3 linked regions of the Homo sapiens genome follow. The protein of the gene in region 1 interacts with the protein of each later gene in a biochemical or structural test. Each region holds a gene or a part of one and is shown in the gene's direction. Other genes may lie near its edges.

Region 1 (7,050 bases):
ATGAATAACTCACCATCTTTTTTTTTTTTTTTTTTCTTTTTTGAGACGGAGTCTCACTCTGTTGCCCAGGCTGGAGCGCGGTGGCACAATCTCAGCTCACTGCAACCTCTGCCTCCCAGATTCAAGCAATTCTCCTACCTCAGCCTCCCGAGTAGCTGAGATTACAGGCACCCGCCACCATGCCCAGCTAATTTTTTGTATTTTTTAGTAGAGACGTGGTTTCTCCATGTTGTCCAGCTGGTCTTGAACTCCTGACCTCAGGAATTCACCATCTTTCAATTCAACATGCATAGTTCACCATCTTGAATTGGAAGCCCTTGCTTTCATTATTTTGTAAAAGGTTTTTTTTTTTCTGATTATAAAAGTAATTTGATGAGTTGGGTGCGGTGGTGTGCGCCTGTAGTCCCAGCTAATTGGGAGGCTGAGGCGAGAGGATCACTTGAGCCAGGAGATCCAGGCTGTGGTGAACCGAGATTGCACCACTGCCCTCCAGCCTGGGTGACAGAGTGAGACCCTGTCTCAAATAATAAATAAATAAAAGTAATTTGTTTTTTCTTCAAGTTACCCTGCTGCACAGAGAGAACTTCATTAACATTTTGGTGTATTTACTCCTACTATTTCCCTTCAGATAGCCGAAGAAAAATAATAGTTTAGAGAATTTCACATGGGTGTCTGCACAGCCCAGGGCGGGAAGTGGTGTTCATCACCTGGAGACCCTGGTCTGGACCTGGCTCCTCTCTGTGAACCCCACCTGGGCCCACCTCTCCTCTCCTGGAGCCCCAGCAAGGGTTCCCAGCTCCAGTGAGTCCTCTCACACCCAAGGTGGTGATGCTGTCCTCTCCCCAGAGGACAGGCTGAGAAACACCGGGCTTGTGGTTGCATTCTCAGGTGTCTGAATTCTCTACAGGAAGATTTGCATGTTCTGCCTTTGGTTTGATGACAGTCTGGTTGCCCAGGCATGGCCCTGATGCCTCACAGCCTGGGTCTGTGCCTGTGGTAGGGAGTTCGGGTGCCAGCTGTGTGCTGAAGTTGTAACTGCTCCTGCGCCTTTTGTAGTTTTCTTCACTCCATCTTGGCTGGATTTGGGAGGATCATGTGTTCTCGAGTGTGAGAAACACAGGCAACCACGAAGCGTTTGACTTACTGACACACACATTGGGTTGGACCCTGGTGATGCCGTGTCTGAGGAGTCTTAGGCCGGGTCTCCACCTCTTCTGTGGCCGGCTTTTTCGATGTACTTTATCTGCAGTAACGTCACAGCCCTCCAGAATCCGCCCGGTCTCTAGAGCACAGTGGAAATTCCTTCTGCCCAGAAGAGCCATGGTCTGCCCTTTGTGGCTCCCAGCTCCACTCCCCTCGCCTCTCCCACCGTTTGCTGGTGGTTTGGCCCTGGGCTGGCTTCCGCGGCCTCCGCGCTGGCACAGGTCTTCCCTCCCAGGCCTGGGCCTTTCCAGCTGGTTGGGCAAGGCTGAGATAAGGATGTAGACTTGAATTCACTGCTAGCTGGGGGGTTGGTTTTGTTTTTGTTTTTTTAAGTATTATTTTTTTAACACATTTCAAGTCAAGAAAGTGCTTTTTAATGCCTGATTCACCGTAATGGCTGGGCTAGGTTGGAGGCAGTACTGACGTGAGGCCTGGAGCGGCCCTGGGACCTAAGCAAGGCACCGCCGCCGGGCTGCAGAGCAGGGCTGCAGGTGCACTTAGCTTCTCCCATACCCCCCTCCGCAGCAGTGGTCTGAGAGCCTCCATCGGCCAGGTACGGTCAGGCCCTGCACAGTCAGGCCCTGGGCTAGCATGATGGGGAGACAAGTGAGGCCCCTGTCTACGCTCCGGTGGGAGGGAGGCATCAGCACAAGCACACACAGACATCTCAGATCCTTTAAAGACGCTGATGAGGTTGAGGTGATGTTGGACAGTGGCAGGGGACGGGGGTGGGGCCGGGGGCAGGGGCAGGGGCAGGGGCGGGGGTGGGGATGAGCTTCCTCCAGTGAATGCGATATTGTGAGCTGGTTGGCGGAGCTAAGTTTTGGGGTGAGGCTCTGTGGACCGTGTTGAAGTCCTGGCCGGCTCTCACCCCAGTAGGCACACAGGCACACAGCACCATTGGGGTGATGTGGCTGGGGGTGTCCCAGAGCTGTGCAGGGAGGGTCTCACAGTGAGACTGGGTGCTGGGCAGTGACTCGGTCTGTGGGTACAGGGGTCAGCAGAATGGGAAGCAAGCCCAAGGAGACACATTGGCACCAGAATGAAGACAAGGCCGGCCGGTGCCTGTAGCATGTGACTGCCCCGTCTGCAGAGAGGCTGTGCTGCGAGCCCCACCCTCTGGGGGCTTCAGGCCGAGTGGGGATGTCTGGGTGCTGACCCAGGCATCGCAAAGCACACTTCCTGCCGGGGTAACTGCTGATGATTTTTAGGTCTGTTATTTCAGAATCGTTATAGCTAGGGGCCATTATTTTGAAAACCTGAACAAAAAGAATTATTCACTGTGTTAATACCACATTTAGTGACTGTTGAGCTGAATGTGGCTGAGCAGAAGAAAGCACCTGCTGTGCTGATGGCTGACTGTGGACCCGGACCGGGACCCTGAGTGCTGCCCCACTCGAGGGAGGGGCCCAGAGCAGCCTCCTTCCTCTCCTCCCAGGCGAGCCTTTCATACCTGTCCTTCTCTCAGACTTTCCCTCCTACTTCATGCTCGCCCATGCCTGTCACGCAGACCCTGCCTGACCTGCACCTGCTCCCACACCCGTGGTGGATGAGCCCCATCACCCGTACCTGTACCCCCCTCACCCGCTCCTGTACCCCCTCACCCGCTCCTATACCCCCTCACCCACACCTGTACCCCCCTCACCCGCTCCTGTACCCCCTCACCCGCGCCTGTGCCCCCTCACCCGTGCCTCTGCCCCCCTCACCCGCGCCTGTGCCCCCCTCCCCAGCGCCTGTGCCCCCTCACCCACGCCTGTGCCCTCCTCACCCATGCCGGTGCCCACCACACCTGCGCCTTTGCCCCTTCACCTGTGTCTGCACCGCCCTCACCTGTGCTGCCTTCACCTGCACCCCCTCACCCACACCTGTGCCACCCTCGCCCGCACCTGTGCCCCCCTCACCCACGTCTGCACTGCCCTCACCTGTGCTGCCCTCACCTGTGCCCCCCACCTGTGCCTGTGCCCCCCTCACCTGCTCCTCCCTCACCTGCTCCTCCCTCACCTGCTCCTGCACCACCTTCACGTGCGCCCCCCACCTACATCTGCACCTCACCTATGCTACCCTCACCTGTGCCCCCCCACCCGCACCTGTGCCCCCCTCACCCACGTCTGCACTGCCCTCACCTGTGCTGCCCTCACCTGTGCCCCCCACCTGTGCCTGTGCCCCCCTCACCTGCTCCTCCCTCACCTGCTCCTCCCTCACCTGCTCCTGCACCACCTTCACGTGCGCCCCCCACCTACATCTGCACCTCACCTATGCTACCCTCACCTGTGCCCCCCCACCCGCACCTGTGCCCCCCTCACCTGTGCCTGTGCAGCCGTCACCCATGCCATTCCTCACCTGTACCCCTCACCCATGCCTGTGCCGTTCCTCACCCGTGCCTGTGCCCCCCTCACCCGTGCCTGTGCCTCCCTCACTTGCGCTGTGCCCCCCTCACCTGTGCTGTGCCCTTTGCCTTGTGGCTGCTCCTGCACTTGGTTCTCTCTCTGTTGGTCGGTTTTCCCATTGGCTGTGCAGCTCCCTGGTGTGCACGTGGCTCTGAGTCTTCCTCTCGTGAAAACCCCTTCCTTGCCCCCGTCCTCCTCCAGCTACTACTCCCTGTCTCTGCCCCTTCATGTCTCTCTTCCTGTTTTACCTAAATCAGATTTTTGCCCCCCAACACTCCACCCAGATGTTCCTCTTGAGGACAGGATGATGCTCCTGAAAGCGGTCAGTCCACAGCGGACCCCACTGCCTCGAGACGCTCCCATCACTCGGCTCCCGTGACACCATCCTCTGGGCTCTCCCCACCCCTCGCTGCATGTCCTCACTTGCCTATGCTGTCTTCTCTAGTCTTGGAGGCCTTTTGTTTTATGTCACCAGCCAGCCCTCCAGAGGTTGTGTGGCTTCACAGACGGTCTCCAAGCTCCTGTCCCCACACTGCTGCCCTCCCCAGGCCTCTCTCCCTGAGGCCATCCCGTGTAGTCACCTCCCGGAGCTCTCTTCGCATGTCTGGAAGGCAGTTCAAAGATACGATACCAGGCGCAAAACCAAATGCCGCATCTCGGCCTTGGGGCCCCAGACGAGCCCCAGACCTGCCTTACTAAGCCACCCTTCCCAAGTCAGTTGACAGCGATGTCCCCCGGCACTTGTTCAGTGACAGCCGAGAACTCGGAGGTTTTCTCGATTTCTGTTTCTCACGTTTATCCTTGAGTCCACGATGGCTGCTGGGGCTGCGGCCTTCGCGGCCAGGAGGAGGGTAAGGGGGAATCAGTGCCGCCCTGCGTGGCCAGCTCCCTGCGTGGGGGCCTTAGTGGACATCCTCCCAAGCGTTTACACTTCAGCTCATTCCCCAGAGCACGGGGCTGGCCATTTCTAGCTTTGGAGGAGCCTGAAAAAGTACGTGCGTATGTGTGTGTGTATACATACATATAGAGAGAGAGCACGCGCTTGAGTGTGGGCTCATTGCTGCCCTAAATAAAATTAGGATGTGGTTCCTTTTGCCCTTTGTCCCTTGCCTGCCTGGTTTCCTTTGCAGCACTCGTCACAGTCTGACGCGGTCGCCTGCATCTCTCTGTGCTTTGGTTGGGCGTCTCCTTTAGAGCGTCTGCTCTGCGAGGGCACGGGCCGTCCTTTGTCGTCGTTCACGTCACACCCACGAGTGCCTGGCACAGGAGTCAGTCAATGGCTGTTGGCCGAACCAATTTCTCCCCCGTCTGTCTGGGAAATTCCTAAACTTCGCATCTCACTTTTGTCCACTTGCCGCATTCTAGAGTATGTCTTGGTCTCATGGCCTGTGCTCTCATCTGGCTGTGGTCAGCCTCTTGCGTTTCCTTTCTCCCTTGCCTCCACCCCTCGCGATGTAGCCCCATCCCCTGCCCTTCTCTGCTTCCCATTGTTCTAGAACATTCCAGCATGGAAACCCCGCTGTGCAAGGCCCCTGCACTGGCCACAGAAGCCGCACCTATCTGCTGAGGAACCCGGTTGCTGCCTGGAGTGGGTGTCGAGTACTGCCTGGCAGCATAGCCATGCTTCTTGAGGCATTTTAGCACCCTGTACCCCAGGTACTGTTCCATATGCCCCTCCTTCTCCATGAGCCCCCCATGCCTGCCCCGTCCTTGTGCTCTGCCCGCGGCTTGGCCCTGTCTGTCGCCTGCCTGCTTGTGCTCACTGTTTCCTTTCTTTTACTGGAGATATGTCATTTGTGCCCCGCCCAAGGCCAGCCTTTGTTCATGCACCAGACCCCCTGCCCCATCCCTGTGACCTGAAGAGGCATGTGCCGTCTTCTGGTTATCCACGAAGAGGCACACGCGCCGTCTTCTGGTTATCCACGAAGAGGCACACGCGCCGTCTTCTGGTTATCCACGAAGAGGCACACGCGCCGTCTTCTGGTTAACTGTGTGCGGGACCCACAGGTCCCCTCTGTCTGAGCCAGCCCTGCCTTGGGGTCTCTGGAATTGCTTCTCATCTGGTTTTACCCCCATCACAGTGCTATAGTCAGGGCACCAGGTAACCCCAAGACACTGCTGAGACCCATGATGGATTCTTGCTGCCCATCTCGACCTCTCACAGGGCTGGAACACAGCTCACCCCCTCGGGCTCCTAGAGCGCCATCCTCGCGTTTCCCCCCGGGCTCAGTCCTTGGCCCTGGGTGTTGCTGTGAGCACCGCTGCCTTGGTGCTCTCACAGGGTCTAGTGGACTGATAGGACCCTCTGTGTATACTGATGACTCCCAGGCAGGTATCTTCCCAACCCCAGAGCCCTGTATCCAGTAGCCTGTAAAACATACCCACTTGGCAAGGCACTTTGGCATTAAAATTATTATTATTAAAATTATTATTATTTTTAGAGATGGGATCTCACTCTGGCACCCAGGCGGGAGTGCAGTGGCATGATCACAGCTCACTTCAGCCTTGACCTCCTGGGCTCAGGTGATCTTCCTGCCTCAGCCTCCCGGGTAACTGGGACCACGGGCGCCTGCTTCCGTGTCTGGCTAATTTTTTTATTTGTAGAGATAGGTTCTAGCTCCGTTGTCTAGGCTGGTCTCCATCTCTTGGGCTCAAGCATTCCTCCCTCCTGGGCGTCCAAAAGTGTTGGAATAACAGGTGTGAGCCACCATGCCCAGCTCCTTGGCATATTTAGATCTGAGCTTATCATCTTAACACCTGCTGCCCAAACCAATTCTACCAGTCTCCCTTCTCTTCGGGAAGGGCAGCCCCTCCATCTCCCTTGGTCAGGCCAGAACCTTCAGGTTGGCCTTGATGCCTCTGTTGTCACAGCTCATGCCCAGCCCGTCTGCCCCTCCACCCTGGCGTCAGGACATGCCCAGGCCCAGCTGCTGCTGCTCTTCCCACCTCTGCCCCTGCGGCTCAAGTCGCATCTCTCTCTGGAATATTGAATAGCCTTCTGGCTGCTCCTGCTCTGCTCATGCCCACCCCGGCTGCCCCAGCGCCAGATCCTGTCGTCTTTTTGTTCTAGGAGTTTCCTGACCTGGGGATGAAGGCCAGGGTCGTTACAGTGGCTCCCAGGCCCTTTGCCCTGTAGGGTGCTGGGCCCAGTGGCCTTTCTGCCGCCATTCAGCCAGGCCAGCATGCCGAGCCCAGGGTTTTACTGCCACCTTCCTCTGTCTGGAGCGCTCCTTCCACAGATGTCCATGGTCCCATGTCCTCACCTTCAATCTTTGCCAACGTCCGTGGTCCCATGTCCTCACCTCCTTCAATCTTCGCTGAGCTGTCAGCTTGTGAAGCTTCTCTGACTCCACTGTTGAAACTGCAGCCCCAGCATCTCCCACTTCTGCCCTTTTCCCTCGTGAGTCGTGACCGCTGTCTCACATAACGGTATTTTGCTTGTTTCTGACCACTGGGATTA
Region 2 (7,050 bases), on another chromosome or scaffold:
GGGCTATGGTATTTTTGAAAACAGATGATTTCTAAATTAAAGTTCTCGGCAGGTGATGTGGTAGATATTACATTGAAACTTAAATATGCCCTTCTCAAAGGTATTTTACTGAAAACTGAGTTTGGAACTCTATTTTCAAGTTTAAAGGGAAGATTTTTGGGCTTCTGAATATACCTGTCTGGGCAAATGATTCTGATAACCTGAGAGGCTCTAATTGGGACCCCTCTGTCAGGACTTTGGACCTCATTCTCTGAGATTACTTGTGGTAATACTTGCAAGAATCTGGTATGAATAAAACAGAATTTTTGAGGACTATATAGAACACATCATTGCATCATACTGGTGAATGACTGTTGCAGAAGCATCCTTTAGCCAACCTAAAGGGATTGGTTCAGTTTCTGAGGATGAATGTTTTATGTTAAAATTTTTTTTTCATCTCTGAAGTTGTGAGCAGACAGCTATATACTAAATGAGCTGTTAGGATAGTTTGTGATGGAAACTGATCATACATAAATAAGAGTTTAGTTAGTAAGCCCATTGACAACCCTTTTCTAGTCTCAGCACCCTTATTCCAGATTGTAAATACTGCCTGATTGCTGGCTGGGAGATAGTCCTGCAGTGAGCCCTAAAATTTCTCAGGTGGTCTAAATCACCTTTAAGTAGCTTGAAATTCTTTTACATAAAATTTCTCTCGTTAATCTTTTTTAAAATGCAAGTTTCTTAATGCAGATACACTTGGGGAAATGAGGATAGTATGGGCTGGTCTCTCATACCTGGTGAATTGGTTTGTGCTCTGCCATTTAATCCACCTCTGGCCAAATCCGTCAGCCTGACAACAGGAATATCTTTTTTTTTTTTTCTTTTAAATGGGGTTGGACTGGTATCAGGCCTGCAGCAGAGAACAATAATGGAATATAAGGCTCTGAGAGGGAAGTGCAGGCTTCGACTTGGTGCCATAGACAGTTAGGGAATATTGGTGGTTCAGGGACAACATAGGTGTAATAGAAACATGAAGAGGCAATAAGAACCAGGGAGAATACTGAAGAGCTCTGCCGAGGCCAAGACATTCCTCTCCCTGGAGACTGACTCTAGACTTCTCTTCATGCCTTTGGAATTAGAAACCTTAGGGTGGTAGATAGGAGGGTGGGGAGTGATCCAGAGCCTGCAGTGAGGTGTCCAAGGTAAGAGGAATAGAGATCACAGCTTCTGTCATTTAGTTGTGCCAGCCTTTCAGTGAGAGTTTCCCTGTGAGCACGAAGTTTGGTCTAAGTTCATTGTGGTTAATGTAGGCTGGTGGTCATTCCCAGTGTGCCTCGATCTAATTTGTATAGTGCACTGGTGCTTCTAAAACTTCACTCATACACATGTGCACTCTTATTTTTCAGATGGATTCACGATTTTACTTAAGTAGATTTATCTTAGGCAGTGATATTTGTGTAGTCCTACATGTGGTATGTAGGTATTAGGTATAATAAACTACATGTTAAAATAAATTCATAACAATTAAAATATTAGTTTACATACTAGCTAAAATTACCATTCGCATCAGTGGTATGGGAGCGGTGCTTTGGATAACCCTGGCTTAACAGGGTTAACTACTGTATGGTTAACTTTTAGTGATTTGATTTGTGAGTATATGCCTTTTAGCATTTTTTTCCTATTGGCAAATTTATATTGTTTCCCATTAGCACCTCTGTGGTGGAAGGGAAAAACAGAAAAGAACTATTTATCATGTTTTGCTGGTATTCTGCACTCATACTTTGTGAAAGAAAATTAGGCAGAAACAGTTGGTAATGGTTTCAGGACACATTTAAAAGTATACTTGGGAAAATTGCAGTTTTTGTAAGAGTAAAGGACATGCAGTATTCTTTTCTGATTATTTTTAGACTAACGGAGTTCTAATGTGGTTTCTGAAAGTGACTTTCAAGGAATTTTCTAAATTTAAAATTTATTTATTAATTTTTAGTAAGTCATACATTCAAATGGTATCCATTCAAACAATGAAAAAGATAACCCAGTGAATAGTACATTCAAATGGTATAAACTCAAATGATAAAAAAGGACACCCATTGAAAAATCTTTCTACTCTTGTTCCTGGACCACCTGGTTGCCCACTTCACAGACATAAATGCCAGTCTCCAGAAAAAAAATTTTTTTGTTGTTTTTTGAGACAGCCTCCCTCTGTCACCCAGGCTGGAGTGCAGTGGTGCGATCTTAGCTCACTGCAACCTCCGCCTCCTGGCTTCAGGCAATTCTCCTGCCTCAGCCTCCTGAGTAGCTGGGATTACAGGCACCACCTGCCACCATGCCTGGCTAATTTTTGTATTTTTAGTAGAGACGGGGTTTCAACATGTGGGTCAGGCTGGTCTTGAACACCTGACCTCAAGCAGTCCACGCGCCTCGGCCTTCCAAACTGCAGGGATTACAGGCGTGAGCCACTGCGCCCGACCTCCAGAAAAAATTTTAAAAGAATCCAGTGAAATGACGATTTGTCACTTTTCCTTTTTTCTTTAACGCATCAGATATGTATTTCCATTTACTATGATTAAGGCTTAGTGTTATCTCACTTTGCAAGTTGGTAAAGATGTCTTCATCTGTGGGAGTGATCAACATATACTGTATTAGCACCTAAAACTCCTTTGGTGTGTGTGTATGTTGTGACTTCTAGTAGTAAAACTCATGTAAACCATAACTCCTACCCTTATCTCTTTGGTGAATCAAAGAAACTGTTGAAACTTTGGTTACCAGTTGGAGAACTGCTTTCTTTTTAAAAATGTGAAGGTAACAAATGAGAAGGTAAGTAGGCAAGTAAAACATGAAAAACAAAAAAAGAAACTTGTGGAGGTCACATTTTTAACTCATTGCTGTGGTATGATATTGCATCAGTACACAAAAACCAGAGGTTGAGGGTCGCATGTTAGGTATAATCTTCCAATCTAGAATTTGGGTTGTGTATATTAAACACATGTGTTGAAAAGTATGCTTATTTGTATATATGAATGATCTGTGCTTTTTCAGAGCCGACCAGTGTTGAATATATTGTTTTGAATGAAAGTAAATGTATTATATCGGGGCTTGGTAGACTTGTAGCTTGTTTACCTTTTTAGCCTTATTCTTTGGTGTGCATGGAGTAGGCCTCATAGCCAGGTTGCCCATTTGTTACCCAGACTTTTGCTAAATACTAACAAGACACTCTTGAGAGAATAGTGACTTTGTTTTGAATACAATTTGATATCTGTTTTTAACATCTAGTCTGGAAAATAGTATATCAGTAGGTCATAAATAAAAGTTTGGGAGGACATTGTTCAAACATTCTAAGAGAAGAACAGACTGGTTCTCAAGTTATTTAGGCCATTTTAGGTGGTAAGAATAAAAAGTCAGTATATTGGTGTTTCCAGTTGGGTTTAGAAGTAGATTTAACTTTGTTAGCCATTCTTTTTCCAGACGTACTCTGGAGATAATTAATTCTTTTTTATTTGGCACCGTATTCATTTAGACTGGCAGGTGACATAATAGTGTTCATTAAAATGGAATTTGTTGATGTATAAATAGGCTGAGGTTAGGGCTAGGCTGGCTCCAGGGGCACCAGGCATGTCATCAGGACTGATCTTGTTCTCTTCTGTCAACTGTTGGCTTTATTTTCAGGGTAGTTTTCTTCACATGGGGTAGAGATGACCAATGGAGCTCAAAAGACAGGAACATGGCCATTTTGTTGGAGATACTCCAGGGAGTACCTTTATTATTCCGTTATGGATCCTTTCCCTGAATCAGTAACTGGGACCAGGGAGTGAGGTCTTCTGGCCACCTTGAGCTGTGCTCACCCCCTCAGGAGGTATATGGCCTTATAATACACTGTTCATCAGGTAAAGAGACAGTTCTAGAAAGGAACACTTAAACCCAGACAGAGTAATATATGTCTATTACAGTGCAACAGCTACATGTTATATCAGTAACATTCTCTGAGATGTTTTCCTGACTAGCCTCGCCTTCTCAGCTTTTGCCTGGCCTCCTAACTATAATGCTCATATAATTCAAGTAGTGAGTTGTTAGTATGACTTAATCTATAGACTAGAGAATACAACTTGGTTCATGTTCCTCTAGAACTTTTTTGAAATTACTTTAATGCTTGACATAGTAAAGTAATTTTCCTAAAGTTATTTTATTTCTAAAGTAGTTTCTAACTCTGGATAATAACATTGGTAAGGAGAAACTTGCCAACACTTCTGTGATACTGTCATACTAGAGCTAATAGAGAAGTTTCTGTTGTTTTCATGTCTTAGTCTCTTAGTCTTTAGGATGATGAAAATGGTGTTTTAGCAAACTGTTCACTTGGAATATTAAAACTAACTTATTTTTATTTAGGGCCCTGCTTCTTCATCTGTAAGGCTTCCAAAATCTTTAAAAATGATCCAAAAATGCAGTTTAGGGAGAAAATTGTGGAGGGCCCTGGCTCTGAGCTATGTGTACTTGGAGACCCGTGGTACTTCCAGGAGATGATGCTCTCTAACTGGACGTTTCCTTGAAAGCTCTGAGAGTAGCAGACACTTCTGGCCATTCTCTTTAGATTAGATGTTAACTCAACCCTTCAGAGAACAAAGACTAGACTGTCTGGCAGGACTCGAGGATTTTGAGAAATACAGTATGCTTTCACCTTATATGGGTGTGGTGATTGTGTGGCTGAGCTCAAAATGGTTGTTTGGGAATGTCGCTTGGAGAGGCCATAGGCTTATATTACCAAGTCTTTCTCCACTTAAGATGGAGGCCTGGATGGTGATTTCGTCTGTTATGGGGGCACAATGTAGTGTCAGGCTGTGTGTTATTTATGATGAGTTTGTTGTATCTGCAGAATTCATATAGGTTTAATTCATCTTATTGATACATGAAGACATTTGGGAGGAGATGAGGAGAGAATCTTTTAAAAGAAACATTATTCATGGCCCTGGTCCTCCAGGAACTTGGAGGCTAATTGAGAAGATGAATCTGTATTTGTGGAATAGTACCTAAAATTTTGACCCTGGGCCCAGGAGGTCTGGGTTTGAATCCTTGCACTGCCAATTTACTGGTTCTACAATCTTTTTTTTTTTTTTTGGAGACAGAGTCTCACTCTGTCACCTAGGCTGGAGTGCAGTGGTGTGTGATCTCAGCTCACTGCAACCTCTGCCTCCAGGGTTCAAGCGATTCTTGTGCTCCCAAGTAGCTGGGATTACAGGTGTGCACAATGCATGGCTAATTTTTGTATTTTTAGTAGTGACGGAGTTTCACTATGTTGGCTAGGCGGATCTTGAACTCCTGGGCTCAAGTAATCCACCCGTCTCAGCCTCCCAAAGTGCTGGGATTACAGGCATGAGCCACCACGCCCGGCCTGATCCTACAATCTTGCTTAGCCAGTTTTTCCTTCAGTAAACTGACATCACAGAGTTATGAGAGTGAAATAAATAATAGACGTGAACTGGCTTTGAAATTTGTAAAACAGGGTAGACGTGTTATTTATAAAGTCTGTGCCTTAAGTGGTGTTAAGCTTTTTTTTTTTTGAGGCTGAGTCTCGCTCTGTCACCCAGGCTGGAGTGCAGTGGCATGATCTTGGCTCACTGCAACCTCTGCCTCCCAAGTTCAAGCGATTCCCCTGCCTCAGCCCCCGAGTAGCTGCGATTACAGGCGCATGCCACCAGGCCTGACTATTTTTTTTTTGTATTTTAGTAGAGACGAGATTTTACCATGTTGGCCAGGATGGTCTCGATCTCTTGACCTCGTAATCTGCCCGCCTTGGCCTCCCAAAGTGCTAGGATTATAGGCGTGAGCCACCACGCCGGGCCCAAGCACTGTTTAATTGAGACATTTTGGGTAATATTTAGGTGTCTTTATTACTGGTTTATGTTAAATACCACTCTGTGTCCAGTGGTCTGCTTAACATTGTAAAGAATGCTTAAAAGGTATAAGAAAGAGTCTTTAAGGAACTTAGAAGTTAGTTGGAGAGACCAGACTCATATTTGAAAGGGGGAAAAAACAAGACCACGGCACACAGTGTATAACAGTGCTTCTGGTGAGTACAGACACCAGTGAAGAGAGAGAGCCCTTAGAAAGAACTGCATGGGAGTAGATGGGCATTATTTCAACTGAACTTTAGATCACCTCATCAGTAGTTATTAATCACCATTTATAGGTAGAACTAAGCAAAATCTTCTAGGAGTTACAAAGAACAAGCATTTTCATCCTCTAAGAACTTTGTGTCCAGTTAGGGAGATGAGACTGGCATTTTTTAACAAACACACAAACAAAAGCAGTGCCCTGTAATGCACGGTTATGTATCTAGGCTAGATGCTACATGAGTGGTGTGGACAAAAAGGGGTGGGATTTGAGACAAGGAGAGACTCTTTTTACCTATGGGAAGTTTTAGTAGCAGAGATTGAATATGGATAGCAGAAAGAGCAGATGGAGTGCCTGGAGGGGAGGATGGCAAGAACAAAGGTGTAGAGGAGTGAGAGGTGAAGGACCAGATTGCAGGGGAAAGGCGATAAGAGCATTAAAATTAAATTGGAATCAGGTTTTGTAAAGCCATGGATACCAGGGAAAGTAGTAGACTGGGAAGATATTGAATTACTTTGGGGTGGGGTGGGGACATTTTGAATAGGGAGGGGACAGGGACACGATCAGAGACCAGTTGTCAGCAGTATTTAGGTTGGTTTGGAGTTGGGAGTGAGGTTTGACTAGAGGCAAGAACGTTAGCTAAGGCTAAGTGTCAACCTAGATTTGATGAAATAGGGACCTGTCTTTGGGTACTGGTGGTAGAAATTTAAAGGGACACATGAAAGGGATTTCTGAGGGAAGGAATGACCAGGAGTTGGTGCACAGATGGAGTCTGGCAGAGTAGGAGAAAAGGGCAGGAAAAACCAAAGGTTAATCCAAGGTTTTAAACATGAATGATGGGTAGATCATTATGGAACCAGGTAGAAAATAGGAAGTTTAGGAGAGGGGAAGGTGGAAATCTGAGTTTGATTTTTTTTTGTTTTTGTTTTTGTTTTTTTGGGGGGTGGGGGAGGGGGGGTCTCATTC
Region 3 (2,790 bases), on another chromosome or scaffold:
GTTTGGTTGATGCTACTGGGGGGAAAAAGTTGAAACTACTGGTGACCACTGTTGGGAGAGGAAACATCTGTTTTATAGATTTAGCATGGCCTTCCCATCAAAAATACACTCGTACCATGACGTTTTGTTTTTGTTTTTTAAGTAGCCACTTTTAATTACTCAGTATTAATCCTAGGTGCATGTGTTAAGATTTCGGTTTTCATCGAGCTGCTTATACTGATAGTGAAAAACTTGGATGTGTGTGAGACGAGTTACCGCCTTCTTCATTGGATGTGATCTGAACTTTTTTTCTCCTTTCAACATACTTAGGCTGTGGAGTGCAAGCAGAATTATGCATAGAAATTGTGGCAGGGCTGAGGGAGTTGACTGCAGGCAGTTTTTAGGCCAGATAAGGCTAGATCTTCCTGCAATGCACTTGCTGCAGCTTTGATTTTCCAGATCTCAATCGTGTTGCTTCAATCAATATTGAGATCCAGCAGCCTTCACCATCCAGGAGACTTCAGAACTTGAAGGTAATTTTTGGTTGTTATGGGGGTGCACCAGATCATAGGAGGGCATTATTTGGAGGAAACCGCTATAATGTAAAATCAGATTTCAGAAGGAAAATGCAGCAAGGACTGACTGTAGTCCTATTTCAGACCCCTGGGCACTAGTGTCAACTCCTCCTTTGGCTCGTAACTCAGAAAGAACCAAAGGGCAGATTAGGGACGGGGCAGGAGGGATCCTAGGATGGCCAGAGTAGGTGACGCTTACTTCCTTAGCTCCTCCTTCCATTCTGATCTCAGGGTTTTCACTCTTCAAACTCCCAAACACATGACTTCTTCCCAGCAGCCCTTCCCGGCCTCTAAAGTTTGGTCCCAGCAGCCCTTCCCAGCCTCTAAAGTTTGGTCTGGTATGAAATGGGACTGTTTAACAAGCAAGGCTCTTAGGGGACACTGTTGAGCCTGGTCCCAGAATCTGTGATCTCCACAGGGCCAGGGTTGCTACTTGCACCCAGAATCTAGTGATTTTAGTCAGATCCATGGAACAGAGCAGCTTCGTAATACATTGTCAAGTTACCTGATTACAAACTCTCATAGATGTTGGAACTACCTTTTTACTCCCCATACTTTGTAAGTAATGCTTCCAGATTAACCTGCAAATCTTGTGGAGCCAAAGCCTCTCACAGTGCTGATTTACCTCCCCCAAAATGCCCCCAAACCCCCATGCAAGTTTACAGCCAGTAGCTTGGTCTTATTCTCTTGGAGCCCTAAAATTAAGCCTTTCATTCCCCTTTGCTAAAGCATCTCACTCCCAGGGCAGCCCCAGCACCCTGGCATTGCGGGAGGTGCTCTGCTGCACAGCTGTTCCATCAGGCCCTATTGGCCTCTGTTAGACATTGACTCAGGGAGCCGGAGCGCCAAGTGGAGGTTGTACCTTTCAGCCCTTTGGGGTGTTAAAAGTGTCAAGGGCTGGGTTTGCCTCTGATGAGTACAATCAGTTCCAGAAGACTGGGTAAGTCTCTTGCTAGCAGGTGGACATTCTGGTATTTTAGACTGACTGAACGAAACCCAGAGGCTGGTTCCAGAGCTCTGTCCCTGAGAACACATCCCTGTGGAAAATACTTGAGTTTGTAATTTTTTTTCCCCCTTCTGGGAGTGGAGGTCTCAGGCTCAATCCGGAACCATGTACGTACAGTTTTGCTTATTATTTGATGTGACATGAACTCAAAATCCTGCATTTTTAGATTCCTTTTAGTTCTAATTGAGGCCTCACTAGATGCTCTTCAGTTCTGTGTATTTTGAGGCTGGGTGGAGAAGTATATGATTCTGCTGTTGATTCTTTCAGTCTTCCCCCCTTCTCCTTTTATCAATCATTCCAGAGTTATTTTCTATTAGTCAAACTTTTTTGTAGAACCTTCTTTCCCTTACCCTGGCAAATTGCTTCTTTACTTGCTGGTTTCCTTACGTTTGGGGCACATGTTGTAAGAAACTGATTGGAAGGGGAAATGTGCAGCTCTCCACTGGAAAGGAACTCTCCACCCCTCCCATCCTGATAAAACAAACAAGGTTTACATTTACAACTAAAAGGATTCAGATGCAATTTTCAACTATTCTGAAACCAGCAGGACACACCTGACTTTAATAGTTTTAGCTGAAATTGTAGATGTTTTGCTTCAGTTTAACTTATGAGAAAAGATTATCTGACGGATTTTGTGTTGACTTCCCCTTTAGTGGTTTATTTTGTCTTTTTCTGCCCATCTGTCTACTAATAAAATGTGAAATAAAATACCTGTATTGCTACTTCCCCATGAAATGACCCTCTTCTTTTTTTACCTTGTGTTAAAGAAAACTAAAAGGTGGTCTCATTATCACTGTTAAGTTTGCAGATTACGCTGGGGCTCAGCTGAAAAATTAGACAAAAACCAAAACTGGGGAATCTGCCTTTCTAACTAACTCACCTCCCTGGTGTATCCCCAGTCCCTTCAAGCTCCTTATAGACGTAGCCATTTGTTAAACTTGATTCTGAAAACGGGAGCTGATACAAGTAGGTCAGTGAAGGATTGAGGGGTGCTCTGCTGCTTTCCTTAGGCAAACATTTTCACTGTCATTTGTTTTCCTAACTTACTGCTGCTAATAGCAGGGATCAGGCAGATCACCCTATTTAATAAAAGTCCTAATTTTACCTGTAGACACTTACCTTTTTTCTAGGTAAGGTCCCAAGCTGTGGGTTAATAGGAGTATCGGTCCCATCTGATGACAGGACCATCGCTCTCAATTGTAGAGGCCAAAAGCAGAAAAAGTAGATTGT

What was found.
Region 2: the proteins of MAEA (region 1) and RMND5A form a complex in vitro, tested with the Homo sapiens proteins (one study listed by BioGRID).
Region 3: of the proteins of MAEA (region 1) and UBE2R2, one has a biochemical effect on the other in vitro, tested with the Homo sapiens proteins (one study listed by BioGRID).

Annotation. Positions count from the first base shown.
Region 1 is NC_000004.12:1,292,870-1,299,919, forward strand, and holds part of MAEA (E3 ubiquitin-protein transferase MAEA), read left to right. Parts: intron 1-5,104; exon of another isoform or gene 5,105-5,246; intron 5,247-7,050.
Region 2 is NC_000002.12:86,723,241-86,730,290, forward strand, and holds part of RMND5A (E3 ubiquitin-protein transferase RMND5A), read left to right. Parts: intron 1-7,050.
Region 3 is NC_000009.12:33,918,110-33,920,899, forward strand, and holds the end of UBE2R2 (ubiquitin-conjugating enzyme E2 R2), read left to right. Parts: 3' UTR 1-2,290; downstream 2,291-2,790. UniProt on the Homo sapiens protein: E2 ubiquitin-conjugating enzyme that accepts ubiquitin from an E1 ubiquitin-activating protein, and catalyzes its covalent attachment to other proteins by an E3 ubiquitin-protein ligase complex.